Homo sapiens: one gene and its partner. The protein of the gene in region 1 interacts with the protein of each later gene in a biochemical or structural test. Each region holds a gene or a part of one and is shown in the gene's direction. Other genes may lie near its edges.

Region 1 (3,500 bases):
TCCTTATTCCTGGCCTTGGATACTAAGATGATTCAGAAAATTCAAGAGCAGATCCCCAGAAGGCTTGTTGGGGGCGGGGGTGAGCTCAGTGAACAGGGGGTTTCCTCCTTGCCCCAGAAATTGCCCAGGGTGTGGGCTGTCTCTGCTGCCCCTCTCCTGAATGCTCGCTCTGTCCTCCACGCTGTGTGTGATAGGGGCTGACCCTCCCTCCTGCCGTGTTTCCCTTGCCCCCAGCTCATCAGGGCACCATAGAAAAACTAGGACCTCGAAGACTCAGGTCCAAATCCTGGTACTATCAGTTACAAGATGTCTGACATTGAACAAGGGACTTTACCTCTCTGAGCCTCAGCTCCTTCATCAAAGAATGAGGATAAACCTACATAGGAGATCATTGGTATAAATCCCTTGGCACATAGGCAGTTCATAAATGATCATTCTCTTCCTGCCTTAGCCCCTGGCTTCCCTGCAACCCCATGAGAGAAGCAGCCAGGAATGCAGGCTCGGTGGGTCTAATTCCTACAGGAAAAATAAGGAGTCTATTTGCCTTTCATGTCCCTCCCCAAATCCTCTAGAACCCTGATGGTGAGTGTAAAGCAGTTAAGCCATTCTCTCCATGCCCTGCCTCCCAGTCCTGCAGTTTCCAGCTAGCCCTCGGTAGAGGGGCACAATTCAGAGGAAACTGTGGGTCTAGACTCTCCAGGGTGAAATGGTCCAGAGCTTAAGCATGCGGGTAAAATCTGATGTCCCTGGGTCTGAGCCCCCAGGTCTCAGTGTGACTCCTATCACTTCTAGCTTAGGACGGGACCTCTACAGATGAAGCTTGCCAGCCCTCCCAGATTTTCTCTGGAATCTCCCAGGATGCATCTCTGAATCTGAACATGAGATGATGCAGAAGGCATGTGCCAGATACTGGAAAATCAGCACAATGCCCTTTATTTATATGGCACTTATTTATTTTTTTATTTTATTTTTTATTTATACAGAACTTTTACAAAGTTCTTTCATGGATGTTATTTCATTGGCACTGGGTGGCAAGCCTGTGGGGGAGGTATTTTTACCATTTTGGAGATGAGGCAAATCAGGCCCAGAGAGGTTAAGGAACTTAGCCAAGGCCACACAGCTAGTTAGTGAACTAATAAGCCAGTCTTTCTGGCTGGTAAAGAGAATGTGTCTCCCACTCTGCAGTAGGTAGCAGTGGCCTTCCTGTCCTAAACCTGAGGTCTGATGTCCAGAGTGGTGAGAGAGCTGGGGGAGGGGCTCACCATGGGATGGTTGTGTTATGTGAGGACTGGATGCCCCGTGTGCTGTGCTGTCGACACTATTTCTAACCTTTGTCATATAAACAATGCCACATCTACTCAGAAAGGAAAAGATAAGAAGAAAGCCAAGTATGGCAGCCTGCAGGACTTGAGAAAGAATAAGAAAGAACTGGAGTTTGAGCAAAAGCTTTACAAAGAGAAAGAGGAAATGCTGGAGAAGGAAAAGCAGCTAAAGATCAACCGGCTGGCCCAGGAGGTATGTGTCCTGCCTGCAGGCCAGGCAAGCAACCCTGGGACACAATGTGGTCGTTCTCCATGTGCTCCCAGAGGACCAGCTGGAGTTGTTCTCCTCAAATGGCATACAAGGGTGGAGTGAGCCCTTTCCTGCTCCCCAGCCTGGAGAGAGAGATCATGCCACCTGCCCAGGGCCATCTGAGGTTAGCTCCTGGCTTAGGAATTGAAACTAATCTCCTTGCTTGGGGGTGTGAGTCTTGCTCCTGGCTTTGGAATTGAAACTAGCCTCCTTGGTCGGGGGGTGTGAGTCTGAGGTTAGCCTTTCTGACCAGATGGTAGGTCTCAGGTTAGCCTTTGATACACCTGGCTTAGAGATTTGAGTCTGTCCTCTTCACTCTACCCCACCAGAGTCTAAGGCTGGGCCTCTCCATCTCAGGTGTGGCTCTGAGGCTACTTAGAGTATGGTCTGCGGCTAACCCTTCTGCCTTGCTTGTAGCTTTGAAGTTAGGCTTCCACTGACCTGTCTACGAGTCTGAATCACTCTGGCCTCCCTTCCCAGGTTATTGTAAGACCAGACCCCCCCCCACCCAACTTAGCTTGGCTCTGAGAATATGGGTCTGAGGCTAACCCCCTTATGCAGGTGGTAGGTGCGAGGTTATCTCCCAATTAATCAGGCTATCAGTCTAAGGCTGCTCCCCTCAACATAGGGTGTGTCTAAGGCTAGACCTCATCAACCTGGGAATATATCTGAGGCTGTCCCCATGAAGACATGTCCAAAGCAACCTTACACCATGAATAATTCCTATGCTAGGTGAGATGGGTAACCTTAACTCCCCAGCTGTAGGAGGTATCATTGTTTCTGCTTCTCTTTAACGCATCCATGAATCAGAATGCCAATTTGATTAGATTATAAAACCAGAGAAGTCCTGGAAAATGTGAAATGCATTAGGTCTGACATTATGAACAAATTAGCCACAAAATTAAAAATAAGATTGAACTTATGCTTCTGAGGGCAAGGCAGAATGGAGCAGGAAAAAAAAGAGTCAAGTTAAACTCTTGGAATGTGCTGGGGGAGGCTACAAAAACTCCATTCTTGGAAAATCATAAGAGCCTCAGGGTTCATGGGGATCTGGGATCCAGCTAATCCCTCACAATACATAAGCCCCTTTTCTGATTTTGCCTACAAGTTCTGCTTAGTGAATTTGACACCCCGCCACTCTCTTCTCCCTTGCTGCTGCCTCCTTGAGGGCCAGTTGGAACAAGCCCAGGTCTCTTTCTAGATAGCTGATGCACCTCACAGTACTCTGGAGTTTCTAAAGGAGTGCTTTCATGCTATTTCTATCCACATGTTATTCAAATGTGCCCTTTGTCCTCTCCTTTCTGCGCCGATCCTGGGTCCCAGGTGTCTGAGACAGAGCGGGAAGACCTTGAAGAATCGGAAAAGATTCAATATTGGGTGGAGAGGCTCTGTCAAACGCGCCTCGAGCAGATTTCCTCTGCTGATAATGAGATTTCAGAGGTAACAGAGCCCTTCTTTCCACATAGACCCTCCTGCTGTCTTCAGAATGACCCACTGTGGGGACAGCGGGAGGTGAGATGACAACTAGCAAACGTCACTAGCCTCACAGTGCCCATCCACTGTCCAGGCCCACCCCTACCACCCCACTCCCCTCTTGAGGAGGAGGGATATGTCTGTATTTCTGGGTATACTCCCAGAGTGATCTCTAAGTCCCAGCTCATCTGCGATAGTCTCAGTTAGGCCTGTTGTCCTGGCATCATGACTAAGAGTCCCCCTTACACTCTCAAGGGCATTCCAGTTTAGAGAATGAACTCTGTGAACACCTTACCACCCACAGATGGCATAACTTGGGGCTCTTCTGCATTTGGGCACTCCCTAACAGCAGCCTAGTATGGCCTCAGCTGGGCATCCAGGTGGCAGAGGAATGGCGCCCCATGGTTCTGATGTAAGGGTGGTGGGTCTCCAGTAGCAAGAGAAACAGATTAGAA
Region 2 (2,194 bases), on another chromosome or scaffold:
GAGGCAGGAGAATCGCTTGAACCCGGGAGGCGGAGGTTGCATGAGCCGAGATGGCGCCACTGCTCTCCAGCCTGGACGACAGAGCAAGACTCCGTCTCTAAAAAAAAAAAAAGAGGGAAATAAACATTTATTTGTATATTGTTATGTAGCCATTAAAATTCTGTTTCCAAGTAATTTTAATTACAGGGGTAAATTCTTATATATCTAAATAAGAATATACACATACACATGTTCCAAAATATTTATTATGTACTTAAGGCATATATATTATATATGTATGTGTGTGTATATATATATGTATTTGTGTGTGTGAACACTAATATTTGCATATATATACACACAAGAAATAAAAACATGTTAAAAATGGCTATATCTGCATTGTAGAATTATGAGTGATTCATGTTTTTCTAACTTCCCTATCTGTATTAAGTGTTCTATAGTTTATATTTGTTACTTTTTACATCAGGAAATAGTAAAGTTATTATTTAAAACTTATGAACAAAAAAGTAACAAGCACATGCAAGCACAGAGTTCTACCAAATGCAAAAAATTTCAAATCAATTATTCAAATGAGACATTAACATCACTTCTGTGGTAGTTTTATATCCATAAAGTCTGATTCTTCTCCTTTGAAGAGATGAAGCTTAATCTTCCTCATCCTGAAAATGGGCTGGACTTAGTGACTTACGTCTTTTTATTTTATTTTTAATTGACAAATAATAATTGTATGTATTTATGGGGTACAATATTATATTATTATATATGTATACATTATGGAATTATTAAATCAAGCTAATTAACATATCCATAACCTCTTATAATTTCTTTGTGGTGAGAACATTTAAAAATGTACTCTTTTAGCAATTAGGGACTTACTTTTAATACAGGAAAATGGAAGAGACTGTGAGACTTTGAAGTAGGTCATAAAAGTCACTGTGGCTTCCTCCTTGCTCTCTCTTGGACCACTTGCTCTGGGGGAAGTCAACTGCCATGTCCTGAGCAGCCCTGGAAAGACCTACATGATGAAGAACTGAGACCTTCTATCAAATGCCAGCAGGGAATTGAGGCCTCCTGTCAACAGCCATTTTAGAAGTAGATCTTCCAGCCTCAGTCAAGCCTTCAGATGACTGCAGCCCTGTCTAATAGCTTGACCGTAATTTCATGAGAGACCTTCAGCCAGAAAACCCAAGGAAACCATTCTGGATTCCTCATCCTCAGAAACTGTATGAGATAAGAAGTGTTTGTTGTAGTACGCCGCTAAATTTGGGGCAATTTGTTACATAGCAATGTATAGCTCATACAATTTCTGGGAAAAAAATAGTTTATTTTCGAATCATTTTTGCATAATGCAAGAATATAAACTTGTCACAGAATAATTTATCCTTGTTTTAGGTGGTCCAAATATTTCATTGTCAGTTATATATTAGCTCAAATTAAATTTTAGATAATATATATTATTATTAATGGTAAAGAATGTGTCACATTTATCTTTATAGCTTTTCTGTACCTAATATTGTGTCTTGTGCGTAGGATGTGCTCAATAAAAATTGATTGAATAAATAAGTGAATGAAAGAATAAATGAATGAGTGAAGGAATTATCTGAAATATTTTTATAAAATTCCCCATATGTATGTATTACTTATTACAAGTCTGGTCCCATAGCTGAAAAAATATTAAACATTATATATATATATATGTTTTTCCCTGATATAGTGGTATATTTTATTATCTCTTGGCTCTACTATGAAATATTCAGTTAGGTGTCATTACTGTTTAATTTGGTTTAGGGCTATTTAGATTGGTTTTTGAAACTGAAGGGGAAAGAAGCCCCTTGCAATGCAATTGATGAAGTGATAAAGACAGCAGGTATAACTATTAGGTGGAGGCATATATATGGGAAAGAACAAGAAATAGGATGTAGTTACAGAGGGCAAAACCTTTCAATGACATTCATTTGTCTTCTAAATTAATAACATCTAATACCTATTAGATTGAGCCATTTGAAATTGCCAATATTTGACCTACAAAGGCAATGATTTCATATTGTTCAAACTAATAACAACTTATTTGCTGGGCACTACGTTTAATATTCATTACAATTCCATAAGGAAATTATTCTTTCAACCTCATGCTACAGATAAAGAAAGTAAGCCATGGAGCAGTTAGGAGATTTGCCAAGGTTTTTAGTAGAAG

Evidence for each region.
Region 2: the proteins of USH1C (region 1) and RASSF6 interact in a test that uses a peptide from one of them, tested with the Homo sapiens proteins (one large-scale study listed by IntAct).

The regions. Positions count from the first base shown.
Region 1 is NC_000011.10:17,509,917-17,513,416, reverse strand, and holds part of USH1C (harmonin), read left to right. Parts: intron 1-1,362; coding exon 1,363-1,515; intron 1,516-2,895; coding exon 2,896-3,012; intron 3,013-3,500. UniProt on the Homo sapiens protein: Anchoring/scaffolding protein that is a part of the functional network formed by USH1C, USH1G, CDH23 and MYO7A that mediates mechanotransduction in cochlear hair cells. Required for normal development and maintenance of cochlear hair cell bundles.
Region 2 is NC_000004.12:73,571,050-73,573,243, reverse strand, and holds the end of RASSF6 (ras association domain-containing protein 6), read left to right. Parts: 3' UTR 1-1,694; downstream 1,695-2,194.